Regions from separate parts of the Homo sapiens genome. Here all the other regions are linked to region 1. Evidence: fine-mapped expression QTL. A gene starts in region 1. Each other region holds a variant in brackets. All regions are shown on one strand. Distances are from middle to middle. Region 1 holds the start of FIGN (fidgetin, microtubule severing factor). Region 2 overlaps FIGN (fidgetin, microtubule severing factor). Region 3 overlaps FIGN (fidgetin, microtubule severing factor).

The links.
Region 2: its variant is fine-mapped to the expression of FIGN in visceral fat (GTEx, PIP 0.92).
Region 3: its variant is fine-mapped to the expression of FIGN in subcutaneous fat (TwinsUK, PIP 0.95).

The regions. Positions count from the first base shown.
Region 1 is chr2:163,729,798-163,740,955 of GRCh38, reverse strand. It overlaps FIGN (fidgetin, microtubule severing factor), which reads left to right and starts at 4,948. Exons shown (of 3, transcript NM_018086.4): 1 at 4,948-5,118; 2 at 5,884-6,053. The coding sequence starts at 6,029. It overlaps LOC107985957 (a long non-coding RNA gene), which reads left to right and starts at 7,015. Exons shown (of 2, transcript XR_001739759.2): 1 at 7,015-11,158. RefSeq lists enhancers at 3,309-3,824, 3,825-4,341.
Region 2 is chr2:163,685,546-163,696,703 of GRCh38, reverse strand. All of the region lies in intron 2 of FIGN (fidgetin, microtubule severing factor), which reads left to right. LOC107985957 (a long non-coding RNA gene) reads left to right here. Exons shown (of 2, transcript XR_001739759.2): 2 at 1-11,158. Among named protein-coding and RNA genes, the nearest start is that of FIGN, 45 kb to the left of the region's middle. The variant C/G (reference allele first, on the strand shown) is at 4,837.
Region 3 is chr2:163,610,741-163,621,898 of GRCh38, reverse strand. It overlaps FIGN (fidgetin, microtubule severing factor), which reads left to right. Exons shown (of 3, transcript NM_018086.4): 3 at 10,093-11,158. Among named protein-coding and RNA genes, the nearest start is that of FIGN, 120 kb to the left of the region's middle. RefSeq lists an enhancer at 1-375. The variant A/G (reference allele first, on the strand shown) is at 6,304.

The sequences.
Region 1 (11,158 bases):
GGAGCTAAGTGCTGAGTGTCTTAAGGGAGTTCGCCCACAGAAGCGGAGAGGAAAAGTCAATTCAGGCAGGGGGCACACTGTCAAGCAAGGCATAGAGAGGAAAAACAGCACAGTTTATGCAAACTATAAGTGGTCTGTTTTATTGGTGCATAACAATTGCTATGAGAAGGCCAAGTGTGGGGGCTCACTTCTGCAATCCCAGCACTTTGGGAGGCCAAATCAGGAGGATCACTGCGGTCTAGAAGTTTGAAACCACCTTGGGCAACAGAGTGATATCTGTTCTCTGCAACAAATAAAAATTAAAAAAAAAAAAAAGAATAGATTGCTGTGACAAAGTCTAGAAAAACTGTCCTGTCCTTCACAAAAGAACTCACAATTTCCTCTAGACAGAACTCCTTTATAACTGCACTTTCTATCATTCACTTTGGGCTATATTTATCTGGCTTCATCCATAAAATGTTAAGGTCACTTTTCTTCAAATCCTCTGCAATTTGTAGTGTAGTACTTTTAATTATATTAAGCATTGAATACTTTCTAAATGAAATTGAGAACCATGCAAAATCAGGCAAAAGTTCCAGCAAATATACACACACTATAAATATATGTGAATTTAAAAATGTAATACTCAGGTTAATAGAAGAAAGCAAAACATCTTAAGTGAACCCATCACAGGATTTTCCAGTTTGTCTCTACTGTAGAGCTAGATCACTGAGGAGATGTATGAACCACACTAATATCCTTTGACAGTACCTGCATTTGAGTGTCATTCTGAGCAAATTGAGTAATTTTACTCAATGAGGTCATGATCTTCACTAGCTTTTGTGGTTTTTTTTCTTTCTTTTTTTCTTTTTTTTTTTTTAGGGGAAAGGGTGGTACATAAGGACTTCTTAGTAACTTTATTGAAGTGAAAATCATGACCCTTATACTGCAATTTTATGGAAGCATTAAAAAATTATCTTGTCACTAATTTGCATTATTGTAAGAACTACCTCAGATTTTTGTGAGTAATATGAAAGAAAAAGTCTAGTTTCATAAACAGCTACTAAGTTCTAGAATGTGTTTTGAAACCCAGGAGTTTGGAAGAATATATTATTAGTTTAATGTTTTATTAAAATATTTAACATTTAAGTTCAAAACTAAAAAACAATATTTGAAAAATTAAATTGAATTGCGTTTAGCATTTTATGAAAAACTATACATGATAGCCCTCCAAACTTCTTTCCTTAAAGCATCTTGTGACCTACATCTCCCTCATCTTTTCTACCCGCTGTCTACCTTCTGCCTCCACTGATTTTTTTTCCTTTCCTTTCCTCTCCCATCACTTAGGTAAAGCACATCTCTGTGTCCAGCCTAGCTCATATTTTCCTTAGTCCAGTGCAGACAAGTCTATGGTCATTTGCAAAATCACATTCAGTATCACTTTGCTTATTCCCTTAACCTTCACTTTTGTTGTTGTTGCTTACATTATTTTGAGAAGAAAAAGCAGAAAAAAGTAGAATTCCCCTCTGAATTATCTTGAAAGGAAGGCATACACACACACACTCCTGAAGAAGAGTTATGTTGATTTTTCTTCTGATTTTCTTAAAAAGCACAAGTTTGAGTATACTGTGTATTAGAATTTCACATATTAGTCAAAATGTTATGCATTATAATGTCTGTGCATTTAAAAAGTAAAATAGAAAGAGAAATGATATTGCTAATAGAGTGGGAAAAATTAGTCAAATTTATTATTTTCTGAAATAACTGTTTCCCTGACTAGCCAATCAACTTCCTTTAAACACTCAATATTTAATTCTCATGTTATATCAAGAAGTTTCAAAAGATATTATAGAGATGGATGTCAGCTACAGCCAGAAACATTTCTTTTGATTAAAAGTTTTGAAGATAAATGCATACAGAATATGATGACTGTTAAAGTGCTTTTTAATCATACCACATAATTAAAGATAGTTTTATTAAAACAACAAAAACTGAACATCGCAAACAATGCCATGAATCTCTGTGGAAAAGAAAGTCAAGTTTTATTTTCCTTTGCTTAAAATAATTGGAGAAAAGCAACTTTTACCTATACTTAAAAAAAAAGGGAGAAATAGTGCAATGACGAACTCTCCTGTGTATCTTATTATTATGGAAGTCCCATAATGTATATTCTATTATGTAAGTGTCTTTTATTCCCAGAGTATATGTAATTTTGAACAATTTAGAAACTCTGTACCTCTATCCAGTGCTCTTTTGAACAGTTTTCCAATTATTTGATTCCAAAGTTAATTATATTTATTTGCATGTTGAATGATTTTTTTATAATGTGTATTTCAAATGAATCTATAAGGGAATTGGAAAGGTACAGTTATTATCTATTAATAAACTCTTGCTGACCACACTTTTTCCTCCTCTTTTTAAAGAGCAGGGGTTGTTTTATTTTAGATATTACAGATGAATGGCTTTAAGTCTGTCATCAAAATACATTGTTTTTATATTCAGTGGGCACTGTATTATATATTTTATTCACTATTTGAATTTACACAAGGAACTGTAAATTCAACGCTAGGATTTAATGTTAAAGGTTGATGAGCTCTGAACTTTTTTAACAAACAAGAACAGAGCAGTTTTGCCCGAATTGCACAGAGCATCTGCTGTGTGTCCAGAGGACTTTTGGTCGTCATTCCCCAAATGGGCAATAACTGCGATTATGAGCGCTTCACAGTTTTTTTTTTTTTTTTTAATTCATCTGTACTCAATCCAACAGTGACCCACAGATATTTCCCTACACTTATTTCTTTGTGGTAAAATCCAATGAACAACTTTTCGTAATATCATTTTCAAAGCCATCTTGTAAAATATAACTAAAGAGGTTTCAGTGTTCTCTGTTACATCAGAATAAAGTTCTTCTGTTTTATTTCGAAGACTCCTTTTTTAAAAAATTCACAGAAAGGTCAAATCCATTCCAAATAGAAATCTCATTGCTTAGAAATATTTCTTAGGATCTCGAATCACTCTTTTTTTGTCTTTTAAATTCTGTCATCTGCCTAGATTTAACTGAAATAATTTTTATTTCTCAGTGTGTTAGCTAAAGGCATCCATTCAAAGGTAAGAACATCATAAAAGGTGAATGGAATTAATTTCAAAGTATATATTTGGCATTTTTAAAGAGCTGCATTTCAGCATCTGGAGAGCTGCAATTTAGGCTATCAAATCTACAACAGAGAAGCTGGGGGAAATGTGAACACCCTTATGAGGAGGGTCAGTCCTCAGCAAGTGCATTTTCGGTTCCAACCTTCAAAGGTAACATTTTCAGCTTGATGGGCTCCTGGTGGAATATATAATTTGCCTCTTTCATTCTTAGCTTCGTTGAAATATAGAAGACTGGATGTCTACCAGGCCAAAGTATAAACTCACCATTTATCTATTAAAGTCATATTTAATGAAAACGAAGAGAAATTATGACCCAATTCACTCTCTTTCTCATTACAATTCCTAAAGAACTTTGCCGGGCACATTATCTCGTAGACATCATGATCAAATGTTATTGTTTGCTTTATTATCTCAGTTGGATGGTTGGCTAGTCTAGAATGAAATAGGTTGAAGGCAATACTCTCAGCCTAGAAGTCTGAATGAGGTTCCCATTCAAATGATCCTGATTGTTTGCGGGTGGGGCGGGGTGATTAGTAAACCAACTGAGCTTACACTGCATAGTAAGCGTCTGGATGCCGCACATTTACATCTAACAAGAGACCCCAGAAAACGTGTGTGTGTTTCTTAAACCTTATGTTCCGAACAAAAGGCTATCTCAGCAACAGACAATCAGCACTGCATTGCTCCCTGGGATGCGAGCAACACACTCAACTGCACATTTCATTCTTCCTCGGCTCCCAGCACCACAAAGCCCCTACTCTCTTCCCACTCCTGGGTCCCCAGATTACTCCATAGAGGGGGGTTGGGAAGGCAGAAGCCTAACGTCTATGCCTGCGCACCAGCCGCCGACACCAGGGCCCCCCGGGCGCTGCTTTCTCCAGCCCGAGCCGCCTGGGGGAGGTAGGGAGGGGAGCCAGGGAGCGCGAGAGGGGACCGCACACCTAGACACTTAGGATTTTATTTATTCACAGGGAGGCGGGGGAGGGGAACTGGGCGAACGCGAATTTTCTCCCCGAAGTTGCCTCTTCTAAGCAGATCAAGTCGTTTTCTGGCTGGTGCTGGGGGCCCCGGGGAGGGTGCCGGTGAGGTCCAGGCTCTCGAGACCAGATCCCGTCCCGTGCGCAGAGGGGGTGGGGAAGGGCGGACGGGCCGCAGCTGTCGAGAGGGCCGGGAACCGGCAGGGAAGAGCCCGCGGGCCGGGGAGCAGCGCGGCTCTGTCCCGGGCCCTCCAACGCAGGCCGGGGAGCGCAGGGGCCGGCTGGTCACGCGTGGGAAAGAAAGCCCCCTTCCCCCTACGGCGCTGCTCCCCTTTCCCCAGGCTGGGCCGCCAGAGAGTGCGTGCAGGGAGAGCTGCGAGTCCCCGCGCGCGTAATCATGACCTCGGGGCCCCCTCCGGGCCGCGTGAGCGCATCGGCGAGGCTGGGCGGCCGCCGCGGCCCCGGCCGTGTAACATGACCCGAGCGGCCGGCCGGCCGGCGCGGCGCGGCCATTGAGCCCTCCCTGCCCATGAATCTCTGGCGCGTCTCTAGCTCGCTCGCCGGCTCGCCTCCCGCCTCCCTTTCTCCCCCTCCAGCTCCGCGGGCTCCGTGCGCCTCTCCCTCTCCCTCCTGGTCCTCCCGCTGCCCGTCTCTCTCCACTGCCCGCCTCTCGCCACTGCCTCCCGTCTTCTCTCCCTCACGGCAGCCTCCGTCTCTTTCTCCCTCTCTCCTTTGAAAACTGATCTTTGGCTCTTAGTGTGAAAGTGATTTGAATTTGGCTCTGCGGCGCTCTGCGCCTGCGCCCAGCCTCTGGCATGCTGGCTCCTTCCAAGCAGCTGTTTTGGGTTTGAAATTCCAACATGGCAGAGGCTGCAGTCCGTCTTCCCTTCAAAAACTTGGAATGATTTCAAATCATAGGCACCTTCACTTAACCCTAGCTTCCATTCATCAGCAAACACATCGGATCGATGCTACGCTAACCTATCGGGTTCTCTCTCCGCGCGTTCAGGTAAGAGGAGCTTCGTAGTTTTCTACCATCTGTTTAAATTTGTTTTTGTTTTATTTTTAAAGAATATAAATACATCCAAGACCTGTAATTAAAAGAGATCTTCAGTTGTGCCGTAAACATTAAATTCAATTTCCACTCGTTTCTATTCTGTACGCCAACCTGCTGTCTAATTTCTCTGTTCAAAGTAGCCCTGAAACATTATAATGCATATTTTTGCTGCTTAATCATTGTAACAATAGTATGGGATTAAGAGTTCGCGATTGCAAGAATCTCGCTTTTCGCTATATTGGGCTTACTTATTACTATCTTTTTACTTCAAAAATAAAAAAATAAGAAAGCGGAGCCATAGGGTGGGGCTAGACTTTCTTCGGGAACTAACTTCTAAGTAAATAAGAAGTGTAAATAAGAATCTTGCACACACACAAAAAGTTGAGGTTAAATTACAATCTCGTGGCTGGGGGAACGAGAAAATGTCAGAAGATCGGTTGCAGAAAAATGTAAGCACATCATCTAGGAGGGGGTACAGCGTGGTGGGCGTATTGTTGGCAAGGAACGGGAGAGAAAGATGTATAATTTAATGGTATATACAATCCACTGATCCTATTACCGTCCTCCCCGGAGCTCTTGTTAGTTTCAATGGGAGTGAGTGAAATTGACATGGACTTGCATTCCTGGTCATGTGCTTTTTTTCCTTTCTTTCTTCTCCTGTGATCTGAGATCCCCTTTTTGTTGATGTTGCTTTCCCCCTTAATTATATGCATGTAGGTTAAATGAATACCTGACGAAAGGGCCCACGTTTCAAGGCAGTGACATTTGATAGCTGAGAGGAAAAGTGGCTTTAATGAAAAGCAACCTTTGGAATTCCTGCTTGTGAGAAATCCAATTCAGCTTTTTGTGCTGCCAGCAAGAAATGATCAGTAGCACCAGTGTTTATGGTATGTCAGTTTTGGAATTTACTTCCTTTGCATCTAAATAGGAAAGACAAATGAAATAGCATGATAAAACCATTGAAGACTGCCTGGCAAGCAGTTGCTCATGATATAGAATTCCTTTTTTTAAAAAATATATGTTTAATGTCACCATGCTTTTTTTTCTTTTGCTATCACTTGTTTGTATATTGCAGTTTTGATTAATATATTACTTGAATCCACTTTTATCGGTTTTAGCTGTCATCCAGAAGTTGCACGTTACTAGTAATGCACTATATATATATAACTGCTGAAGTCAAATAGTATGTAAATTAGTTAAACTCAGTGTGGGTTTTTTTTTTTTTTTTTTTTGAAGGAGGGAGGCTGGGCAAAGGGGAGAGGGCAGGAGTGTTGGGAAAGATTACTAACTAATGAAAGTGTATCTATATATATGTACACACACAGGAACAGGACTGGATGAAAATTTTATTTTTCTCAATCTATTAATGCAGTTTGACTATCTGCTCTTGATGTTTGCACTTTGTGGAGTAATCAGTTCTTCTGAGTGTGGTTTTTTTTTGGGGGGGGCGGGTAAGTGAAGAGGTGTCTTTTACATGAAAATAAAAATTATATTTTGATTGTCCAAAGTCCTTGATGTCTTTTAAAGAGTAGGGATAGGTTTTTCTTCCCCCTTTCCATTCACTCGTCTGCCTGTCAGCGCTTTTTACTTTTAACTTGTGACAGAATTAAATAATCAGGCACTGAAATTGACTTCGTTTGAAATCGCTCTTTCCTTTCTTTACAAAAAAAAAAAGTCAGTTAAATGGAGTGAGAGGGGATTTTCAATAGCTCTTGTGGCAGTGCCCTGTGTACACTTTGTAATATTCAATTAAGACAGAGGGAACAACAACAACAAAAAGATGTTAAAGTATTTTGCATAACCAAAGGATATGTCCACTTTAGACTGTTTTTTTTTTTTTTTTTTTTGGTTGTTGCTATGTTTACCCCATGACCGTTAATTCCTCCTGAAAAGAGAGAAAGAAGGAAAGAGAGAATATGAAAAAAGAAATAACAGTGGGGCAAAGCTGCCAGGGGTCTGTAGTGTGGCCGTGGTCACTGCTCTCTCCTAACACAAATGTGAATACGAAGAGAGGAACTACAAGACCCGTTGCGCGACATACACGTCTGGTTGGACTCTGGTGACTATTGAGCTAAATACACACCACACTTACACGATAGGAAAGATTTGATTGAATTTTGCATTTGGAACTTGTTGACTTTGAAGCGATCAATAAGAAGACTGTTTATTTTAGATGCACATAATTTGCCCTGAGAAATGTTTTAAGGAGGAGAGAGCACAGCTTTTTTTCCCCCGGAGCTGTTGGAGCGAATGGGATTGCCAGATGGGCGATTTCCCTCTGTGATGTTAAAGCTGTAATATATATTCAGAGCAGATTGGGCTGCTGCCTGTGATGAGGAGGATATTACATTTATAAATTTTAAATCGGAGCTCGGACAATGTGCTGAGAGCAGAAATTGGATGGTTTGACTGTTCACCGTATTGATACTTAAATGTGATTTCTAGGTAGTACTAATAATAATCATTGCAATAATTCATGAAAAACATACTGGCATAGGCAATTATATAATTCATGACATTTAACAGCAGATTTGAGTGTGTAAATTGCCCCCCTCTTAAGTCTCTGCTTACTATTAAATAATAGTCACATAATTCATTTCCCTATGTTTAAATGTCCGATGTGCAAATGATGTTAACTTAGGAGCCTTGTTATCATATATTAGAATTCTAGGGGTGAAAGTTTACATACATATATATAAAGTAGACACTTGTGTATATGTATAAAGTGGCGTTACTGGCTCTTGTTTTCTAATTCTTTACTCTGATTATTTTTAGATTTTGTTTGTCTCAAATGTGCGGCCTAAAGGAACCAGAGCTACAAACCTAAAAGACTAGAAAGTGGGCAAGTGCTCACACTCTGGCAGCTCTGCTGTTGCAAATTAAAAGTGTGTTGTGGTCAGGAAATGAAAGCTACAATGTCTCTTTTGAACAAGTCGTTTATCAAGAGAAACATCTATCAGGGACTGCCTTGTCACATTGATCCTCTAAAAGTTAGGTCCGAGGTGGAAGCTGCTTTGATGTTTTTGATCCTAAATTTAATACAACAGAAAAAAAGCAAGGATATTTTGACCAGTATAGATTTTTAAAAATGTTTCCTGGAACCAACAAGATCTATTTATTAGGATTTCACTATGTGTGAAGTTTTCTGGACGTAACAGTTGAAAGGTTGAAGGGGAAATCCCAGACTTTATAAATTGATGATTGTTAGAATATACATTTATAATATATTTAGTGATGGCTGGCTTCTTGGTGCACATGGAATGGACGTTTTGAACACAGATTGTTCAAAAGGAAAATTATTTTGAAAGATTATTTTGGAAGAATATGTAGAGAGTCAAGAGTTTTTCATTCAAATTTTAGTTATCCTCTTCTGTTCTTCCTCTCTTTTACTCCTTCATGCTTGTTTCTTATCTTCATTATATTTGTGACAAATTAGCTTTTATTTGGAAAAGAAACATTATTTCTACAAAAACCATGTCCCAAAACATGCTTGTACACATCGTCTCTATTGTTTATTAATTGTGCATGTTTATGGTTATCAATATAAACTGCATGGACACATAAGTCCTTTGGAATTTCAGCTTAAAAATAGAGGTATCAGATTAAACATGCTATGTGTTCTTGAATAATGAATATGTTGTATGCATTATTTAAAATTGAAAAGGTATTGTTAGGAAAATGACCAAGTTGAAACAAAATTGTGAAAGCAGTTAGAAGCAGCCTGCTTCATTTTGGGAGGCAAAGATAGGAAAGAAGTGTTTCTTCTTTAAAATAGAGTTTTTGGATACTTGTCTTACACTGCTGGAGGCAACTTGTTATTTCATGTGGGTCTATCATCAAATAAGCAGGGAAGAGTAGGGTGGGAGTTTTGAGAAGTGTAATACTTGCTAATTAATCATGTCTGAAATGAAAGAATCATAGCAGGGTAATAAAGTCTCATTGTTGTTTTCCTGGAAGAGGGTAAGACTTCTGTTTGGAAGCTGTATGTGTGAGTTGATTTGCTTTTCTCTTCTCCTAAAAACACAGTTTATAGGGTCTCTTTGGAATTATTTCAAGAAACATCTTTTTTTTTTTTCTGAAAATAGAGTATTTTTCTTTCTCCTGGCTGTATTTCATCAGTAAGATTCTTAAAACAGTATCTGATATCTTCTGAGTGAAAATAGGGGGTTTTATTCTTTAGTTATATTTAAGACTCCTGTAGCTGAGTTTCCAGGGCTGATATTTTTTTCCTTCCCATAAATAGAAAATATTTTTTGTTTTTGTTTTTATTCATGTTAGGCAGGAACTTTGAAAACCTTTTTGTAGGTAGTTACTTCTGATAGATATACAAGAGTGCAGAAATTTCATTAATTACTTTTAGATGATAATATAAGAGTGTAACCAGAGAGAAGAAAATAGGTAGTATTTCCAAGAATCTATAGAGACCATCTGTATTATTACTTTGCATTTCTAAGATAGTTTAAGATATAAACCACCTGAAAAGATAAATGGGTAATTTCATTATAGGTTAATTATTTTTTCCTGAGCTTCTGGTTGTCACCTTTTAGAATTTAGTATCTTACTCAGGACATTCATAGGGACAGATCCACAAAGTTTGAGAGTCTGCACTGTTTTTCAGAATGTTCATGTCAAGGTGAAGACAGCCATGCTAATACTTCCCTGTTTTTGTCTGTGTGAGTGTTTGGATGCCTTGAATGATTGCCTAATTAAGTAATCACTTTTAGTGGCCCAAAATCAACAGAATTACTAGATGTATTTGAAACAATTGCAGGCTTTTAAGGTTTGAACTTTCTAGTTCTTAGAACCTTGGTTTAATAGAAATAGAAAGGTGCTATTTTACCTTTGATCAATATATTCTTGAGTGCAGATTTCACATACTACTCTTTATAAAGTACTGTGTTCATTGTTGAAGAGCAAATAAATTTAATTACCAGGAATTTAAATTGATTTATAAATTTTTGATTGGAAGAAACTATTCTGCAGATGTTTGTGTGAAATATTGACATATGCTACTGATCGATAGAACTTGATTAATCAGCATATCTGCTGTTTTTCTTGAGTCATTGATAAACTAGAATAAACAAATGGTTCAGAAAAAGCTATAAATTTTAACTCTCAATAAAAAATAAATGTATGTGTCTTTCTTTTGAGATATACAAGAGCTAGTGTTTTATTGAAATCAACTGAACTTAGAAATTATTTGGGGGTACCACTTAGAAGCTTACAAGTCCCAAAATTCTGCCTTTCAATTCACACACACACACACACACACACACACACACACAAACACGGAGCAAGAGAGAGAGATTGTACCTATATTATTGTTTATTGAAAATGAAAGAATTTTTTTGACACACTGCAAATAAATGGCCAGTTTAGCAAGTGCTTTCCATGGTTGGATTTTGTCATTTTCTTCTTTTTTTCCTAAACTTGAATTTTTAGCATTAACTTTTTCATTTAACTTCTGGCAGAAATTTTAAGCATAGCTGCTTTGGTATGATTGCTGATTACTAATCTTTTTGATATTTTTGATGTTATCATTTAAATGGCAATTTTCTTTCAGAAATGTTTATTTTAAAAAGTAAAATAGCAGGAATAAGGAGTATGAAAGAATATACTCAAAATAAATGGTACATTGAAGTTCGAAGCAAATCAAAAGCAAGGGGTATGCTAAGTTTCCTTAGGGCAGCACCACAGGTGCCTGCTCAGAAGCGCTGCCTCAATACAGCACATCCGTAAGTACCTGTTGACAACAGTAGTCTTAGCTAAGATACTGAGGAGGCAGAAAAGATAGGTGATCAGAAACCATCAAAACATGAGATATCATATGGCACTTTCTGTTAATAATATTTACATATTTTATGCAACAAATCTGCTTGTTGTCTTGTTATTTGAATATTGACACTTTGCTTAACATTGCATATGGTGGGCTGTTGTTTCAGGGTGTATCAGAAGCAGTAAATCCAAAGGAGAATTTCAATTTAGATGTATT
Region 2 (11,158 bases), 44 kb after region 1:
AGAGCTAGACTTTTTCTTAAAAAAACAAAACAAAACAAAACAAGACAACACAAAAACAATAAAACAAAATGAGGATCATAACACTATCTCACAGGATTATAAGAAGGAATAAGTGACACAGTGTATGTGAACTTTCCTGGCACTCTCTCAAAATTAATGTTGAATCTCCACAAAGTGCTCTGAGAATATGAAAGAGGAGGCAAATAACTCCTGGATACTTGCAGCGATATTTCATCCAAGAAAGTGACATTAAAGTTGGGCCTTAAGTGATAAGTAAACGATTGTGAGGTGGGAAAACAGGTAGAATAGGTTGCTAATTTCTAAGTCATTTACTTTTTTCTAGTCTGTTTCATGGGGTACCAGGAAACACTCTGAGGTTCAGAAGCACCTCACCAGATTTACTCCTAGTTTTGTTGAAATATATGATTGTGTTATACCACCTAACATCTGCTCTTATTAAGAATTTTTTCCTACCTAGGAAACTATTGTTACCATTAACAGTCTTCTTCTTTTTAGATCACTGTTTCTTTTCATGTCTTTATTCAGCTTCTTCATCCAAAAACACTGTTTTTTTTGTTTTGTTTTGTTTTTTTGAGATGGAGTCTTGCTCTCTTGCCCATCCTGGAGTGCAGTGGCATGATCTTGGCTCACCGCAACCTCCACTTCCCAGGTTCAAGAGATTCTCTTGCCTCAACCTCACAAGTAGCTGGGATTATGGGCACATGCCACCATGCCCGGCTAATTTTTGTATATTTAGTAGAGACCCTGGGGTTTCACCATATTGGCCAGGCTGGTCTCGAACTCCTGACCTCAAGTGATCCACCCACCTTGGCCTCCCAAAGTGCTGGAATTACAGGCGTGAGCCAATGTGCCTGGCCGTGCTATTTTTTAAGAATCCAAGATGTGCTAAGCATTTTGCTGGGTGGGAAAATGTCTTTGTCTTTGAGGAACTTACAGTCTGTTGGGTAGACAACAGACTTGTGAACAAGTAAAGCACAGTGTGAACTACTAAGTGCTATAATTACTGGGAATATACATCTTAGTTTGCCCAGGATGGTCACAGTTCATACCTGTTGTTCTAACGTAATTACTAATAGTCTTTCATTTTCAGATGTGTGCTGATTTGGACAACAAATTTTATGGTTACATGAGTTAAAATATGTGTGTGTGTGTGTGTAAGATATTTTGCATGTTGACTGAAGAAATGACAAGCTCTAAGGAATCAAGGATGATTTTCTTAGGAAAGGTGATATTTGAGCAGAGGCATGATGCCGAGGGCATCACTAATAAGAGAAGGTGGGGAGAGGAAGGGAGGAAGTGCATTTTACATGAGCTAGAGATGCAGATGGGCATTAGGTAGTCAAGAGGCAATAACAAATCACAAGTTCCATGTGCCTGGAACATTGCTGGGTGGGGGATTAAGTAGTGGGAAAATTTTGTAGGCAAGTAGGGAAGAATGAAATCAGAATTTAATGATTGAGGAGCAAATGAAAGTTGAGGAAGTTGAGATGTCAAATATAGACACCTTCTAAGGAATTTAAGGAAAAGAGTGACTGTGGTGATAGTTTGAGATGAAGAAAGATAAAGTTTGGACATTCTGAAAATTGACAGTTAATGTCAGAAGAGACAGAGACACCGAGCTCAAAACAGCAAGGGATATGTGAGACAATGAGATCTCAAAGGAGGGGGGCGGAAAGTGCAGTCTGGGGCCTGGGAGAAAGGGCTAGCCTATGAAATAGAGAGGTCAGAACAGCTGGGTGTGGTGATGAACACCTGTCGTCCTAGCTACTCAGGTGGCCGAGGCAGGAGGATTGCTTGGGCCCAAAAGTTGAAGTCCAACTTAAGCAACATAGCGAGATCCCCATCTCTAACACAATTTTTAGAAAGGAAAAGAAGGACTGTAAGATGATGGAGGTAGAGAATTTACAGGGTAGGATTGGGGGAGTATCTAACCTGACATTTTCTTTGTTTGGTGAAGTAGTAAAATGATTGAGCACAGCCATTAAAGGACATGGCCAATATTTTTGCTCTTAATGTAGATAATGGCTATATGATCTTGTCCCAGTGACTTTACTTTCCTGGACCTCAGTTTCTTCATATGTAAAGTAAGAGACTGGATTGACACTTTCTATGTTTTCATCCAGTTCTAAGATCTGGTTCTGTGTTTTACTAAAAATGTCATGAGAAGGCAGTTCCCTGCATCCCTCACACCCTCCTTCTTGCTTGCCCCATCCTGTAAAAGAGAGGATTCCATTGTCAAGTAAGTTAGGGTTATGGTTAATTGGGTTTCTTTACAATAGGACCTCTTAGAGCCCCTAGAATGCTAATAGGTATTATGAATATTGAAGAGGAGGTTATAGTACACATTTCCCAAACTGATTTAACTGTATAATCCAGTGTTCCATAGAGCATACCATGAGAAACATTGATTTAAGCATTTATTCTCCCTTGTCATTTGTAAAAAATTCTATCCCAAGTTGGTGGGGGCAAAACAAACATTTTGAATGGCTGTTGTCTCTGGTGAGCATGCATCTTTGCTTGGAATATGACGTAGTTCCTTCCACTATCAGAATAAAAAGCTCCACCAAACCTAGACCTACAGAATATTGATAGAAATAAAACATGCAGCCCCGTCTAGGCATGAGATGGTGGCAGAGAGCTGCTGGATGCTCCAGCTCTTCCCTTGAACAAGCTGAAAAGAGAGAAAGACTTGTTTACAGCTCTCAAAAGAAAGGCTGAGAAGTACAGGTCCTGTGTTACCTGTATTATTTCTAAAGTTCCGGAACAGCTAAGGAAAGGAAATACAGAGTAATGTGGCTCAGTTTGTTTGATGTGGTATTTAATCCTTCTGGTTTATAATACCATCTAACACATATGTTTCGTATCACCTCAGATATATTCCAATATGATATTTAATATATTTAGAAAAGAAGAAAAATCCCACTGGCAAGAATGAGTTTCTCCCAGTTATGAAGTAATATGTTTTGTTTTTACTAGTATTCCCTAGCACATATGTGTTCTTTTTCAGTTCTCTTTTCTAACCCAAATGATTATTGTGTGTGTTTGTGCGTAAGTGTGTGTGTGTATGTTATCTGTAGGTTTCTTTATTGATGTAACTACTCTAATTTTGGTTCCTTTAAATTGTGATCATCATGAGGGAAAAGGAGTCCTTCCCTGATAATTCACATTTTGTAATGCTTTGTAAAGTGAACATATAATTTCAACAGATATGCTTTTTTGCTGATTCACTCATGAGTCTTTATATTGTGCAAAGCCCTATGCTAGGCACTGGAGAAAGTGAGAGAATGGGACCCAGTCTCTGTCCTTTTTCTTGTCTTAATCCTTCTCACTCTTGCAGTTCCTCCTCAGGATCCAACCCCTTGCTCCTCACTCCTCTGGTCGTTTTAGCTATCCCTTACTCCACTGAATACACACACACAGATACACACACACACCACAGGTACACACACACCTACATCCCACTCTTGACTAGATAAAGGGCCTATGCCAGTTGTGGAATCTGCTTAGAGGTTGAGGCAAAAGTCAAGGGGATTTGCTTTCACTTGGAAATTAGAGGTGTGGTTTCAGGTGGTTGGTGACCAGTTCACATAGCTCTGGTTCACTCTGCCCTGCTGCCTGGAGTTGCCTTCAGTTTCCTTAGGTGAAAATGGGTCATGGGAAGATGCTGAAGTTGCGGTTAAAGGAAGTACCAAGGCGCTTGCCTGACTCTCTTTAGACCTGCAGTTCTTTTAGGGACCACCTATTGCATCAAGGTTGAGCAGAATGTTGCACACATATGTGACTTCTTTTACTTTTTCTTCGCAGATTCTTAAATTGTGTTTGCCTTCTTGTCTCCCTCACTCTCTCTGGTACAGAGGTCGTAGGTTTCATTTGATTACATTTTCGTTCTCTGTTAAACTAGGCTGAGTCACCTTGCTCCACACAGCTATTTAGAATTTGCTCGTTTGTTTTTTTCTTTTTAACATCTCCACTGTTAAAAGTTAATGCTTTCTCCTTTTATTTTCACTGACTGAATGTCAGAGGACTTAACATTAATAGAAGTCTGTCTCCTCTATTACCTTTCAGGAATAGACATTCAAACCCTTTCGGGAATCATAATCTTCAGTAGAAAGAAATCTATAATAGATTGACAACTTTTTAAACATCTTTTCCTAATACTCTCATAGCTTTCAATTTGGACTGTTTCATTTAATTGAAGAAACATTATTAGCATCTTTGCCATGCATAAAAATAGATTATGTTTGAAGCATATGAAATGTTTCTAGCTCCTTAGAAGAAAATACATTAATATCATATTGTTATATATTGTTGAGCTTGTTTTTAACACCTTACTTAGGAGCCTAGCTATAAAATAATTTTAACTATGAAAGGGACCAACACCTCCTACTGGTACTTCCAGTTAATCTCCTGGATGCTTCTAGAAAGACTGGCCCTATGCCTGCTTCTTACTGAATCATGTTCCTATGTATAATATTTTATCCAAATAAATGACAATACAAAATCCTTTTACTTAAACAAGTTTAGGACTATAAAATATTTCAATTCATATTTTAATTTTAATAATTTTGTTCATAGCTTTCAGTAATAAAGCAAAATGGAACATTTTATTTTTGTGAAGCTTATCATTGTTTGCTAAGACAGTAATGTTAGAAAAATAATCTTTTCCCTAGGCATAACAAAACAAATGTTTAAGATAGATTTGATTGAGCATTTAAAATTTTTAAAGATGAACTTGCTTCTGGGTCTTCACTTCTTGGAGAGAATCCTTGGGAAGAAACTTAAAAAGATTTGGATTTGTCTTTTCTTTGGACAGAA[C/G]ATTTTGTTCTTTATTCTAATTGCAAATTCCTCTGGCCCTGGTTATAGCACATATTTTCCTCTTTATTCCACAACTTCCACTCTGCTTTCTGTTTGTTTTTAATGCTCAGAAGGGTTAATTTTTGCCTCAATTCCTGAAAAGAGAAAGTTGATTGCCACTAATCCATTTTAGTGTAGGTAACATGAAATATTTGTTAACCAAATTAAATCTGGCTGAATTGAAGTGCATAACCACTCATGGAAGGATGCCACTCTCTGACTTACTGGTGTTAGTTTCTCTTGGATTAATTAACATGTTGTAAGATAGTCTAGGCATACTAAAGTCACTGTTTAAAATAGGTCACATCAAGTAGCAGAGTATGAAAATGTCCATCCTTATAAACCAGGGATGGCAAACTCAGGTGCCTCCTGGAACTAGATTGGTTAAAAATGAGTGAAGGAGGACAGGTAGCAAGATTGTTCCTCGTTTGTCACCATGAAGCATCAGCAGATTGTTGACTTGTGAAAATAAAGGCAGAGGGTTGCCATATTTTCTTTTCTTTATTTTCTTTTCAAGATACAGCAGATACCCCATTTTAATGTAATTGTATCAATTTTTTAAATTAGGCAACTAATCAAAGATTTTACAAACAGTGTGCAGTCTGTGTTTTGTACATAGGCTGTCAGTTTGTGACCTCTAGAAACCCCATCAATTTGAAAGATAAATTTAGTCTTATATTAAAAACAAAGTGCACAGTGTTCTTAATTCTGTGGTCAGTGGCCAACGGTCCATTTCCTTTGGGAAAAAGTTTATTTTTGAGTCCCATGATCCTCACTCTAAGCAAAAGACTGAAAGACTATTTGGGTTGATAATTTACCCAACAGCATATTGAAAAATGTTAAGTCGGAAGTCAGTTCCTCATACTGTCTGGTAAAATCTGCAGTGTTGGTGTGGACTAAATCTATAGTTTAAAAAATGTTTTATAGTTTAAAAAATCATGAGAAGGCCTGTTAGGTAAGAATGCCCCCCACCCCAACACACACACACAAATTCCAATGACTTTAAAATTACAAAATTACATTTTTGGTATATCTCTATCTTAGCAACACTGTATTCTTTTCCATCTCTTTAAAATGTGCCACAATTAAATACACATAAAATAATCTTTTATATATTTATATATACTTGAGCCACCTTTCAACTTTTACTTCTCTAGATTACATAATTCAGACTTCTTTAATATTTACATATATCCTGTTTTATATATTTTTAAATGTGTTCTGTACTGTTGCCTAGACTAGACTGGTATTGTTAATAATCATACTAAATGCCAATGCATTATATAACTGCTTTATTACATCTTATATATTGTGTGTATTTATCTAGATTAGATTGCTTTTTACAAATGGTTCTATCCCAAAACAGCATTAGTTTTTGATTCTCACCCAGCTCTACGGCTTTTTGACACATTTGTTTCTGCTGCTGGAGATTGCTAGTCCATTGTGTTATTTCCCCATAAATGTATAAATGTATACCGATACTTTATTTGATTTTTAAATTTATATTGAAGATATAACCTATTGTTTTGAACTACAATTATGTCCATTCCTGAGTTAGCCACACCAGCTATCCCTGGTGTCATGTCCTGTTTGAAATTAAGTATCATGTGTTTTTCTTTATTGAAGGCAGTTAGCTCGAGTGTTTAAGAAATACTGGCCTCATCCTTGGGGAACACTGTAGTAGGCTTCCTTGACATTGAATCATTGGTAACTGTTCTTTCATAGGCCCAATTTGACCATCTGATTTATGTTGTATGTATCTTAACAATTGAGGGGGACTGACATAACTGGAAGAAAAGTGCACATATTTTAATGTTGGCATCACCCAAAACAAGGACATCTTTAGCTGCTAGATTGAAATTATTTACAATTTTGCACTTACTTTATGGTACCAAGTACAAGTATTCTAGTTACACTTGTGGTTTTAGAGAGTATTTGCTGCTCATTTGGAGTCTCAAATGCAAAATATAACCCTGTAGCTATTATGTGGGTTTGCGACACTCCCATGGGGACCTTGGGCTCATAAACCAGCGAATGGATTATATAATGCTGCATAAATGCTGTATTTTTCATCTGACAGACATAATCTTGATCCTATATTTTTATGTTGCCTAACTGCTTCAGAATACCACTTTTGAAGCAACCCATCAAAATGGAAATTGCTTCTAAAACATGTAGCAATAAATATTGGTCAAGGCTCTGTGTAATTCAGATTGACTCAATACTTGAACACTACTCGATTGAAATTCTCTACTGTTTTTAAATAAAAGGTTGATAATTTCCATTTTATGGTATTGTTTGATCCTTTTCTTTGTTAGGCATATATTTACTTTGTTAAAATTAAAATTTTATTTTCTGATTGTCTAAGGCATGCCTGATAGTCAATCAAGCATTTCAGTAGGTATAGATAAAATATTGAGAACTTACATTGAAAGTTAAACCACATATGGATCAAGACATATATGTGATATAGATCAACAAATATATGTGGTACCTATGAAACCAGATGAGCATCACTTTCAAACTTGCAGTATAGAGCTCTGTGTCTAACATGTTATCTGAAAGACTTGATGCCAGAGCTATGATTTTGCTCCAGCCTCTCATAATCTCACTCTCTCTCTGTGTGTGTTTCTGTGTGTGTGTGTGTGTGTGTGTTCATTTTTGTTTTTGAGATAAGGTCTCAATCCATCATCCAGGCTGGAGTGCAGTGGTACAATCATGGCTCACTGCAGCCTCGATCTCCTAGGCTTAAGTGTTGCACCCACCTCAACCTACCAACTAGCTAGGACTACAGGTGTGTGCCACCACACCTGCTAATTTTGTATTTTTTCAAGAGATAGGGTTTTGAACTGGCTGGTCTTGAACTCCTGGGCTCAAGGGATCTGCTGGCTTTGGCTTTGCAAAGTGGTGGGATTACAGGCATGAGCCACTGCACCCAGCCTCATTGTTGTATATTATCCGATGTGCTATTTGCTTTACAAATAATTGTTATACTCTGCTTGTCCTTTACCGAAAACATGACCAAAAACTATCTGATATTTACTATCCAATTTTGTTGAATAAAAGAGGAATCCAGAGTTGTTAACTTTGGCTTTAGGTTCTCCCTCTTGCGACCAACTTTGAATTATCTGGGCTGGGTAGTCCACAAACAATGTGTTCATGTTGTCTCCCTCTTACTCACAAGCCTTCTGTAGCTCCCAACATTCACTGCATGAAGTTTAAACTCCTCTTCTAAAACTATGATAACCTGGTCTCATCTTCCATCTAAACAGCGATTTCTTTTTAACTTTCACATAGATATACTGTACACACATTTCTCGATTTTTGCCTTTGTCTATTCATTCCAGTCTGTCATTTTCTAGTGCCAATATTAAGGATCATTTTATGATCTTACATGTAACTGTTTTAGACTGCTGATCTCCTTCACTTCTAATCTTTTCCACCACTTTATCTGTAACATTCAATATAGCTCTCAATTAGATTATGTCTTCATTTTGTTTGCTATTTTATAATGTGATTGTCAGACCTAGGACCATGTCTTCAATTCCTGAGTTCCCACATTCTGAGCACACGATAGGTCTCATTGGATACTCATTTCACTGGTGATGGATCTCCTGGCTCTTTTACACAGAGTATCTTTTATAAGCAGGCATTGCCATAAAGACATTAGTTTTAAAATTCTTCACTTCAGTAAAGAGTGAATGCCGTATATATACATGTATCTTCTTTGTGAGGTGAATTGTGTGCTTTGGTATTTTCTGGCAAGTTTTGTCAATGGAGACTAGTAAAATAAATCCTTAGAGATTTACTGAACATTTATTTTGTGACGTATAGTTGACGTGTAATACAGTTTTTACTGAGAGTTAATACCTCACTTTGTAAAGCATCTGTATACTAACTCCTGGCTTAACTGTCAGGGATGATGCCTTTTTGTGGTCCTTTGTTTAGGAATGTTGGTCTTTGTGACCCAAGATATGTGAGGACATTCATTCTTGATTTAACTTTGCATGTTACTGTTCATTTTTATTTCTACTTTGAAAAACAGGAATTTTACTAAAAACAGATTATGAAAAATGAATTAGCATTAGGATAAAAAATATATACTTTAAAATTTAAGTTTGCATTGTTAGTTGCCATGCAAAACATCTTGTTCCCTAGGTAAACGTGTACTTAATCAAATGGCAAGTAGAATAAAATGTAAACTAATTGCCTCTGTGACTAAATTCTCTATTCTTGACTGTCTTCCTCAAGAGTAATTCTTTCATGTGAAGTCAGTTGACCAGTCTCAGTTACCTCATTTTGGAGTGAAGTCTAGTACTCTGAAAAGGGAAAGATAAATTATTCTTTGGGGAGCAATGCAGTTTACTAAGCTGTGTATGAGGCCTGAGGTCAGGTGACCCGACTCTGTTCAAATTGTCAAAGGCAAGTGTCAATTGACAGTGTGTTCTGCTCTCTAAACTAGCACTCAAAGCCTAGTGGTTGAGCTTTCTGTTACCATTTCTTCTCCACTGCTCTGGAGAAAGGTTTTGTTTGTCTTGCTGGCTACTGCTAGTACCCATTTAAAAAGTTTAGACACAATTCCTTCAATATTATATCTAGAAAAATCTAGGGTGGTCTTGGAGGGCACAGGAGAAGAAGTTAGTGATCCCCTGACACAGTTTTATGGCTTTGAATACCATTCTGTTTCTTTTCTCCTCTAACTCTTCCAAATGCCTCTGAGAATCATGATATGAACTTTATCATTTTGATAATACCAAAAGAGATGTCTCTGGAAGCATGTAGCTGTGCATGTATGTGTGTGTGTGTGTGTGTGTGTACACAATCTCACACATACATCATAATATAAAATGTGTTAATATTAAGTAATGACTGATTATTTTAAATAATAACACTCTTTACAAATACATACGTCTTCTGCCCTTCAAAGCACACTTGGCCTCCTGCTTGGAAAGTGCTTTCTGTCTAATAGCACTTTCTTCTGATCATCTTTAATTTTGGCAACACTTATCACTTTAAAAAGAATATATATATATGTGTGTGTGTGTGTGTGTATGTGTATATATATATATACACATACATACATAAACACAGGTATATGATTTGGGAAAATAGCTAAATGTCACTGGGAGCCAGGCCTAGTAAATGAGATACTGTTAGAATTGATTCAATAAAATTGATAATATTTGGTCTCAAAACCAAATTGTAAGTATAAAATAAAACTAGTGTGCTTGTGTGTTCCTAACTAGGACTATATGTGTAATGTGATAATCTACATAAGGCAGTTTCGCCCACACTTCTCACTTCTTTACCGTTCCCAACTCTGCTTTATATAGCAATGAAACTTCAGGTATGTTGTTGCACTGCTCATCAAAGTACCACTTTTAGAAGATTGTACTTGAAGAGTTTTTAAATAGCACTAGAAAGACTCTGCCATGCCACAGAAAAGCTTTTCGCCACATTAAGTGTACATTTAATCAACATTATGGCAATTATAGCTCTACTAGAAGTCCTTCACCCTCTGTTTTGTGGCGAGAACTTTGTCTAGGATAAAACTGTCATGAGTAGAGGTAATTTAAAATTCATCCTCCTTTTATTTATGTCAGAATATGACAGGGTGGGATGATGGATACCCATCTTTTTCTAATTGTAGCAATCTATTCTAAACTTCAAAGATAACTTGTTAGAATTCTCATTATTTAAAAAAATGTTATGACACCATTTCTCAGTCATTGCTTTTGTACTATTTCAATAATCTCCTTGGATATACTGATTGAGAAACTGTTATAAGGCTTACTGCGAAATTGACGAAGTCCAAATTTGATGACTGTCCCAAATAGTTTTGTGCCTTTGATAGATTTTACATGTGTTTTTTTCTATAAATCTGCCTTTAAAAATTTATTGTTGTCTTCAGATGTTTTCATGATATGTTCACTTAGTAGTTTATGCCACATGTCTTTAATGCAGTTCTAGAAACCCATTGCTGAGAAAGTGAAGTTCTCTTTCAATATCCATAATGAAAGTCAGTTTACTGGCGAGCACACCTGGGTTTGGCTTCCTAGTTATTCCTCCAGTAACACTGTATTGCATGTCTTAGGAAAAACTATTTGATGAGCTTAGATTTACAAATTAAAGTATTCTTCCACTTACTTCAGATAACGATACTGCAAGATCGTTAATATTGACCTAGAAGAAGTCTGGCTCAGCCTTCTGATTGATGAGCTGTGGTGGCTGTGAATGCTAACATAACCTTAATCTAAAATCATGAGCCTCTACCAAGGGAGGT
Region 3 (11,158 bases), 120 kb after region 1:
CTCCTGTTTCCCATGGGTTAGGTTGTTGGGCACCCTCTCCAGGAAAGGAAATGCCACTTCCTTTGAAGATGCTGATATCCTCTCCTGTTTCTGCTCATTATGCAGCATTCTTTGTTTTTACAAATGAAAGAGCCAACCGCGCTAATGACTGGACCGTCGTTCACACTGCACCTTAACAATGTTCAGTCTATCTGGAAATCAGAGGATCCCAATTATACGTGGTGCTCAGGTCTATTTCACCAGGTCTATTTCACTAGAAGGGGGCAGGGTGGGGAAAATGAAGAGGTGAGGAAACTACTGCTGTTGCTAAGAGCTTCTCACTTTTAATCCTAGGCTGTGCTGGTTGTATTCTAAATCAGTTTATCTTCTTACAACGTCTTATTTGGAAAAAAACAACACGTAACCTACCAAAACTCATTTCATATGTAGCTTTTTCCACTACTTTCATATCAAAGTTATTTTCTTCAGGCTGGACTAAATTATACACAGGTCCCAGGAGTGAAGGACACTGAATTAATGCACTATGTCACCCAGCCCTGACTATAGAATTTTTTTTCGAAGTCCAAGACACTATTTTGCTATTGCATTAAAAATTAATGCACGAATTGCCAAAAAGAGAAAAATGCATAAATAACCCAAACAAATTTTGTCTGGGCTTTGCATACTTTAGAGTCACCTAAAGCAAAGTTTTTAAGGAGAATGGTTGAACAGTTTTACCCTCAACATGTGAATAACATTCTTACTCTTTTGTCTAATTATATGAGACAGTGCTCAATCTTACATAAGCAGACTTATATATCTATTTTGTCTTATGTAAACTGTCTTTTTAGAGTATGGTTCCAGAGGAACACAGAGAAGTAGATGAATGCAAATTTCATTTTAAGCAAGGTTGTGGGGTTTGGAAGATTTCTTAATTTGTTTATTGACCGTTTTCAGCTTGGTGTGTTGGGCAAAACATGAATAGAGTTCAGTTTAAATATAACTAAATTGGGCTTTGCATTTAGATAGTTGAAATGGAACACACACACACACACACACACACACACAAATATTTACACAGAGTTATATGTGCACCTAGTGGTTAGTATACCATTTTAGGATTATGATTGATGAAATATACTAGCCATGTCATAATTCAAGGTTGGTATCATGCCAGATGTTTCTTAAATAAAAATGCAAATATATTTTGTACGGCAAAACAGTATTTTGAGAATCAACTGGAATAACCTCAGACTTTTAGGATGATGATAATTATTATCTCTGCAAAATATTTTAAAAAATAAAGATTCAAAACACTCAGAAAATGCAAAATACTTTTGGCATTTAGTACTCTGTTTATGGATCAATCATACAGGCTGGATGCTATGAATATAGCATGGGGCTCTCAGGTTGTGTTAACCCCATTTATCCCTGCATGCTACAGCTCACCTGTTATTTACACACATAAGAGGGTTGATACTGCAGAACAAGGGTAGTGCTCTGTTGTGACACAGAACATACATATTCATTAGCCACTGCAGTCCCTATGGACATACGTGGTATGTCCTGATGATCTGGGGGGAAGGGTAGATGGCCTTAATGGATTGAAAAATGTATACGGAAAAAGGAAAGAGAGGGCATAAGAAATGAAAGGCTGCAAAGTAACAACTTTAAAGGTTAACTACAAAGTGCTATTTAAACTGATTATAAATTGTCTAAAATTCACAGAGGTAGCATAAACAAAATAACAGTTTTTAAATATGGGAAAATCAGCCCTTTTACCTCAGACTCTTTCCCTTACAATAGTTAATGACACCTGACACTTAGGAAGATTCAGAGTGTGAATTATTTGTATATTTTAAATTGCATGTACACGCATCCTCATGTATCCTTCTGAATAACTTACCATAGAATATACACAGTTTTGTACACTTTTTTTTACTTGGTTTTAGATTATTATTCAAAAATTTTACACAGAAACATTTACAAAACCTACCCCCTACCCCCACACAGAAATCATAGATCTAAGTTATAATTTTAAACTATGTGGATTTGTGTGTGAGCATGATAATATGTTCACTTGTATACTTTAAGTATAGGAAATTTTAAGGGAAAAATTACTTGTTTGAATTATGATCATGATTTCCTGGGTTGCTTTAAATGATATGGTTTCTGTCCTGATCATATAGTGAATCTAGGCTCAGTGGTCTAAAAATGATATTTCTTTCATCACTGTAATTTGCTTTGCATAATGCTTATGCATTCATTCTCATAAATGCAAGCCATTTTATTGCATATTAAAAATAATGACCAATCAGACCCATGCATATCAAGTTTTATCCACCACATGAAATTTTGGCAAAAATAGTCACCGTTACACTTGGTCATATTTGTTGGGTGAATATTTTCTTGCTATGGATACAATTTAATGCATTGTAGAGAACCCAATTCAGATCATAAGCTACCTACAAGTTTAGTTTAAACACAGAGTATATATTAATACCATCCTAGTCCAAGTCATGGTGCCTGTAACATTAAATACAGGCTTTTATGAAGCCCAAAATAAAGACATTTAGACAACAAGATCTGTTGCTTACCTGCGTACCATCTACCCAACAACTTTCTGTAGGAAATAAGAAGCATAACTTTGGAGTAGCTTAAATAACCTTATAAAAGTTGTACTAATGCTCGTGTATTCAACTAATAGGAGATGCTTCACTCACTGTTAAATTAAGCTTTGGTTTGTGGTATCAAACATACAGCACATTAGGAATGGTGAAAATGGATAGGAAAATAGCAAAAAATAATATCTGACAAATTAGAGCAAAAGGGGGAACACTGAAACAGCATCTGAGACCAGTTTTTTAAGATACCATTCATTATTCATCATTCCACACTGTTGTACTAATGACACTGTATCAATAAGAAAGTTATCAATTATTTCCCACGTGTTGTGTTGTAAGAGGGTAGGGAGGTTCTCTTATCATAAAAAAAAGTATTTGGAAAATGTTTTTAACTTTTAGAGCTGAATACTTTCTAGATTTCAAGAAAAGGTATGTAAGTTAAGAAACTGGAGTTGAAGCTCTAAAGTGGAGTCCTAAATTTAAATGCCTGTGTGACCTGGTAGATACCATGAAAATACCTGACATTGTCAGGGGGTAGGAGCACCATGACAAAGTGGAAAGGGTAGGATATGCCCCAAGGAGGGAGCTGGTCCCCAGAATCGGACAGCTGTTGCCAGGCACGAATGAAGTGTTGTAAGATCTTGTCTGAAAAATGGGAAATATGGAAATACAGATTTTTTTTTTTGAGACGGATCTTTTAAAACATAAAGTCGAGTGATTTTTAAAGCCCTGTGCTGGCCAAACCAAACACAGTTGCAGGGTATATGTTACCCTCAGGCTGTCAGATTGCAATTTCTCTGTAAGAGGGTGAGGTATCTGAACTATATTTACTAAGACCCATTTAGCCAGAAATGCCTTCATAATTGTTTAAAAAAAAAAAAGCATTGTTTTATGCAAATACAATGGAATGGGTTGAGAAGGCTGCTGCAAAATGTATTGTAATTTGGAGTCTTGAGGTGTGAAAATATGATTTAAAGAGAAAAAAGTATTTGACAGTATTGTTATATAATTAGAATATCTTATTTTGAAACTGCAGGTTTTAAAATGAGTTTTAACTAGTCTTCAACCTCTAAGTACTTTATTTCTTAGTTTTAATCTCTAAAATGTTGAGTCACAGGAAACATCAAAAATAAATAAAATACTTTGAAAACATTTGAAAATGTTGACACCTTTTTGATTAAAGAGATTATGCTCTTTGTTTTGCTCAGAATGAGAGAATTTCTGTATCTTTCTTGGAACCAACAGTCCCACTGGAAAATTTCATTTACAGTTGCTGTCCTGAGGTTGAAGGAAAACTGACTTATAAATTCTGGGAGTGATTTTACTTTTTTTCTGTCTAGCCAGTGTTGTTTTGTTTTGTCTTTAATGCACCCCTGGCCTTTTCAAAATAAAAGAATACTAAGAAATGTTTGTGTAGCAGTTCACAGTTGGGAAATAGTTTCACAAAATATTATTCAGGTAATCTTAATAGCAATACAGTAAGGTGAAATAATACCATTATTGTCCACATATCACAGCTGAGTGAGTATGATGTGCTTAAGCAACTTAACCAAGATTAGAATAAATAAGTGATGATGTAAGCAATGCTGCCAGTGGTCTTATTCTACAGGCTGGAATTTTCACCGTGAAACAAAATTCTTGAACCTTCTTTATGTTCCTTCAGTCCCTTTCTATCCCAACAATCTATCAATGGCTCCAAATAAAATACTATATTATGCAAAATAGTATCCAATCCTATAAGACATCATTATAAGTGAAACATCAATCGAAAAGTGAGGATGTCTGGAATGGTTAGGTCATTTTAAAGTTCTGTTAATCTCTAAAATCAAAGAGTCTAATTTTGGAGAATTTAGACTGTGAAATTGTGAAAAAGAGAGTTGAAAAGGTTTCATCACCTTATAGAAAATGGATCCTCCTTTTTAGCATTGAACCACAATGCTTTGTACATAGTTCATCTTTTATTGACTAAATTTAAAATTTGACAGCCCCTCTGTTACATTCAGCTTATAAAATCTTCTAATTTTGGTCCTCTAAAGATGGAACAAAATTAGGTAAAAATGATACGTAATTTCAGTGCTTCTTCCTCACTTTTTTCCCTTTCTGTTACTTGTAGATTTTATGCCATATTTTAAAGCCAAGAATGATCGGGGAATGGGCTGAAGAAATTTCCAGATCAAATGAGTTAGTACTAGTAATACTAGATAATGCTGTGTTGGCCTCTTGGCTTATGAGGATGAGTAGACAAGGCTGCATTAGTCTCCTCAAACATTTCATTTGGTCATCACTCCCATTGAAGAATGATAATAAGTAGATATTGCACAGGGCCAGTTTGCAGTGCCAGGAGGTGTACAATCCTTCTTTCAGAAGGTTCTTCACTGCATAGACCTGTATTTTTAGCCAATGAATTTTCTACTTTCTACTGGAAATTTTGAATGCTCTGTATGTTAGTTCTGCCATTTCCAACCCAAGAGATGATAAATCTGTTGCATCAGAAAGAAGAGGCTGTAAAGTATTATAATTACTTTACAGTATTTACCCCAGTAGTGATTGTTTTTCAGAGAAACCCTTGCTAATATTATATTAATTTTTTTAATGTTAAAAAATAATGAAAGGTTCAGAGGTGCAATAGCTCAAAGAAATGTAATAGGTGTAGTAATGTTGTCATGCAGGCCTGTGTGAGTGCTATGCATCTGTTTTAGAGCAGGCAAACCTGCCATGCCTGCAGGTGTTTGCCTCAGGTCCCTGCCCTTAGGAAGTCTGAGAAAACCTACAAATGAAGGCAGAGCCCCTAGCAGCCAAAATTACCCTATGGGAACATTGTAAAAGGGAGTAACTATTTTAGACCTGATGAACTGTTGAATAGTACACGTATATAAGGAGTGGGTTGGGTAGTGAGTGCCTCACATTGATATTTCTATGAATATATGCTAAAAACAGATTCTAGAAGACCTAACCTTTTATTTCCAATTTTCCTCTCATTTTGAAAGTTGCTTTTATACCCTTCATTTTTCTATATTACTGTTTAAAATTTTATAGCTGTGGCAGAACTTCAGAGGATGCTATAGTTGTTTTGTTTCGAAACTAGTTAAAGAGCAAAATGGAAAAAGTAAAGCAACAAGGCAGTAACTGGTTAGTAATTAAACCTAAGTTATCAAATGGTCAGTAATGGTAAGAATGGCAAATGTTATCCGTACTATCCAGTTATATAGGAAATATGGATTTGTTCATTTATATATACATGGAGTCATCCCATAACAATAAAATAAGAACAATGCTCAGATGTTTTACTCTAGTACCTGTCATTCCTATGTAACACTTAAATTATCTTAAAAGCAATTTTCTATTAGATTGTGTATTTTCAAAAAACACGTTGCATGATGAAATTTGCCAGCTGTATTAAGATTTTTCTGATCCTTTCAAAAGTAAAAATTGATGTTTTGCAACAATTCTTCAATTATCTTTAAAAACTATTTTTCTTACTTTCCACTGTTTTCTGAATTTTTACTGTACCTATTTAAACTATTTCCAAACAACAGTAGGAGTTATTGTTCTAAAGTCATGCTTCTAATAATGTTAAAATAGTATTGTTTCTGAGATCCATCTCCATGTTCTGAAGAGAAACCATATAAAAGCTGTTTTTAAAACTCAACCCATTATTTGAGTGCCAAGTTAAGTGACACAGGTGTATTGCTTCTGACTC[A/G]CACATAATTGCAATACAGTCAAACAAAGCAGGATGTTTTTGTTGTTCAGAAAACATTTGGCTCTGTGGTTTTGTTCCATTTCATATCAGAAATAGCACCACCAATAAACACAATAACAATAACAACAAAAAAATAAATTTGGTTACCAATTTCCAGTTAGTGTTAAAATTCAAGGAACCAACCAAAAGGCTCTGTACTTCGAAGGCCAAGACAATCTCCTGAACACTGATTTCCTCAGCTCCTGCTAATATCAAGAATTAGTTTGTGGTTAGATTAGCTTATGCTTTTAAATAACATTAATGATTTTAAAGCACTGGATAAATTCTCGTTTCAGGGGATATGAACAAGTCCATTGCCTTGTATTTAAACAAAATACAATTTTGCCTTTTGCAGCTCTGCAAAGGTTATTGTTATTTACTATGCATCAATAAATAATCTTTCAATTATCTTGTAAGCACATCCAAAAATAGCATGACAATCAAAAGGCAATGGTGTATCCAGTAATTGTTCCAAATAGATAATTTTGATAAATATGATCTTTGCTTAATTTCAGGTAAAAAAGAAATCTTACGAAATTTAGTTTTGCTAGACTTAAACCATGCAAAAATACCCTATGAAATGGACACTCTATTTAAACTGTATACTACTGTCTTTTACAGTGATTATAACTTATTAAAATCATTTTTTCATCTCTTGTATGAATAATATATTTACAAGAAAACATTACTTAAGCTAATACAGGTGGGGGGTTCCCACCTCCTGTGTTTTTTTAAAAAAATAAGCAGTTTCATTTGAGTTAAAAAGTATATTTCTTTATAATATTTGTTATGTATGTTTATTAACTTATGCTAACAATGGCTTAGCTCAGCAAACTGAAAGGAAGCCGTCCTTTAACTTATGTGTGCGTACGTATGTGTGTGTGTTGTGCTAAATTCCATTGCCTGTACTTCTAAATTATTTGTTGAGCCCTTTAAGACTTTTTTTTTCACGTTTTTCTGTATCAAACTAATCACATTTATACTCACAGCATATGTGTGTTCTTATTTTCTCTACTCTGTATTTTGATAATATTTTAAAGAAAAGAACCATAATAGAAATTCCCTAGAAATAATTTACAGGACTAATGAATTTGTAGGTCTCTTAGACAGTTCTACATTACAGTCACATTAATATTCTCTCCTTTTTATAAGGCTTGAAGTAAATCCCACGACACTAGAAGCATTTAGATACTGATTACTTGCGATTGGTTCCTGGTGATTTGCTCTTAATAATTTCCAGTTGAATTTAATGAAAGTATGATTCCTGAAATGCTGCTTCATTAAAATTGCAGCTTTTCCCCTTTAAGTGTGGTTTCGGTCATTTCACCCATTTTGCGGTGTGTTTTCCTCCCCCTTAAAAAGTAATGATTGAGAAAGCAGAAATAATTAAGAATACCACTTTAGTTCTCCCTGGAACTCATCCTCAGAGTTTCTCTGAGTGAAATGATGCAAGCTGCATTTCATCAGGATTTTATAATACTATTTTCCCATTCAATGAGATTATTTAATAATATATAAAGTTTTAAAACATAAATATGAATTTTGGGGGTAGTTGAGGGAAATTGAAGAAAGAATCTGTTGCATGTACAAGAGAACTGAGGTCTTTAGAATTTTTACTAATATGTATATACATATATTTAGGTTGATTAAGTTACACTGTGCAGCATTCAGACTTAATTTAACTGAGTTGTGATTTGCAAATGAATATCTACATGGATCCTTTTTAAAAATCAAAATGCAAATGAGTACAATTGCAGTAAAATATATTTGCAAATGAATCCTGTTGCTTTATTCATTTATTGTGTAATTACTGCAATCCTTCCCACCTTGTTTTCAGTATTTCTTAATCATTAAGTCGGAAGCATGACAGCAGTGCCAGCCCTGGCATGATTCTCTTTGACTAAAACCTTGTAAATTAACACAATTAGCACAGCATCATCCTGCTAATTAACTTCCAGTGTCTGGTGCAGTGGTTTTGCAAACAAGGAAGAGGGAGTCAGAAGGGAATCAACATGCCATTCTGTTACCAAACTGTGTGTTATGTTCAGTTTATCGCAGTAAGTCAGAGCCGGCCATGTCAGAAGCCAGAGTCAGGCAATGAAGAGCCACAGAGCTTGGAGGAAGAGCACAGAAGGGGGTAGAAACTGACAAAATAGACTGTAGTAATTCAGAAGGGGGTTGATGCCACAGATGCTTCATGTAGACCAGGCCTCCTCCTTATCAAGGCATCTCTGCCAGAGGGCACAAGACAGTTTGCAAAATTCACTTTGGGTAATACAAAAAAGATGAAGGAGAGATGCTTAATATAGCTGTACCAGAATAGGAAGTGTTAAACCAAGCAGAGATTAGACTGAGATGAGCCAGCAATGGGAAAAAGGAGAACAGGGTACCAGTCCTCTTCTGTAACTAACTGTATGTGAGACCTCGAGGGTACATTATAAATCGCTTTGGGCCCTGGTTTCCTAATCTGTGAAATAAAGTAATTTCTAAAGTCTCTTTACAATTTAAAATTCAAATTATTCTGACTGCTTAGTATTTTTTTCTTAAATGAGAAAATGCTCATTTTGTAGTTTGCTACATAGTCAACTTTGCTTCACTTAGTAACCCAGCAGATGATAGAATTACCCAGACCATCTCATTATCTACTTGTACTCCTCTAGCGTATGCCCTACGTGGTTTCCTATAGAAATTGAAAGAGTTAGAATCCAGAATCTCTCTCCATTCTTATCTTCCCTTTCCCCTCAGTTTCCTTTCTCTCTCTCTCTCTCTCTTTCTCTCTCATATATAATATATATATATATATATATGAAGATGTATAAGACAGGATGTGTATAAATACACACACACACACACACACACACACATTCTCCCCTCTTAGTACCTTGCAGGCTGTAAGGGGAGGAGGGATTATAAGAGAAGGAGGGAGAACGCTAGAAGACCGACAGACAAGTGATGCTTGTTTTTTTTTTCAGAGACTCAACAACAGAACTGAGAGGCAGAAAGGAGCCAGTTGTAATTCATACCGAGTTGTAGGCTTTGTGCGATGAAAGCGATGGAGCGCTGCCTGGGAGATTGCTTTGCTGCACTCCACGAAGCAGATTTGAAACTGTCGTGGACCACTTTAGATGAGAGTTGGATTATGGAATGACCTGCTATGTCTGTGTCATATTGTTCTGCGCAGGGAGCATTATACTGTGCTAACTAGGTGTTCAGTACCAAATAAGAGAGGTATCCTAGATGTGATCTGTCAGCTGTGTCTCATTTTTATATTGCTTAAAATGTAAAACAAACTGTGATGTGAACAGACAGAATAGCTAGATATTGTACATGTTAATACTGCCATGTGCAAGATATTTAAAATGTCTGCTTATTTTAAGAACCTATGATTGAATTCTAATTTGACAGGAATGTGTGTGTACATATATATGTGATTGTGTATGTGCGTATAGTAGGTAAGCTGATGGGCTTGACAGAAATAGATTTACTTATTCCTTACAAATGCAAAAAATATAGGTAACTACAGAGTTATATTTTAAACTCAGTGTGCTTTTTAAACAGGGCTGAAGTTTAGTCCATTTTAAAGAGTACTTATTATAGGGATCATAATAGGTATTATAAACAGTGTAGATCTTTTAAAGTATGCATATCATTAATGGAAAATAATAGGTAACAAAAGAAATTGGGGGAAAAGCTTTAAGAGTTCTGATGCCTATTTAAGTAAATTAACTCTTTTCCCCCCAAAATTCTTAGGCTTGAAGATGCAGTGGACGCCAGAGCATGCCCAGTGGCCAGAACAGCACTTTGACATCACCTCAACCACTCGGTCTCCTGCCCACAAAGTTGAAGCCTACAGAGGTCATCTGCAGCGCACCTATCAGTACGCCTGGGCGAATGATGACATATCTGCTCTGACTGCATCCAACCTACTAAAAAAATATGCAGAGAAGTATTCCGGCATTTTGGAAGGTCCTGTGGACCGACCCGTACTCAGCAACTATTCGGACACACCATCAGGACTAGTGAACGGTCGGAAAAATGAAAGTGAACCCTGGCAGCCTTCCTTGAATTCAGAAGCTGTTTATCCCATGAACTGTGTTCCGGATGTTATCACTGCCAGCAAAGCTGGAGTCAGTTCAGCCCTCCCTCCAGCAGATGTCTCTGCGAGTATAGGAAGCTCTCCTGGGGTAGCCAGCAACCTGACAGAACCTAGTTATTCAAGTAGTACCTGTGGAAGCCACACTGTACCCAGTCTTCATGCAGGGCTCCCATCTCAGGAATATGCCCCAGGATACAACGGATCATATTTGCATTCTACTTATAGTAGCCAGCCAGCACCTGCACTTCCTTCACCTCATCCGTCTCCTTTGCATAGCTCTGGGCTACTACAGCCCCCACCACCACCTCCTCCGCCACCAGCCTTGGTCCCAGGCTACAATGGGACTTCTAACCTCTCCAGTTACAGCTATCCGTCTGCTAGCTATCCTCCTCAGACTGCTGTGGGGTCTGGGTACAGCCCTGGGGGGGCACCGCCTCCGCCTTCAGCGTACCTGCCTTCAGGAATTCCTGCTCCCACCCCCCTACCCCCCACCACTGTTCCTGGCTACACCTACCAGGGCCATGGTTTGACACCTATTGCACCGTCGGCTCTGACAAACAGTTCAGCAAGTTCTCTCAAAAGGAAAGCTTTCTACATGGCAGGGCAAGGAGATATGGACTCCAGTTATGGAAATTACAGCTATGGCCAACAGAGATCTACACAGAGTCCTATGTACAGAATGCCCGACAACAGCATTTCAAACACAAATCGGGGGAATGG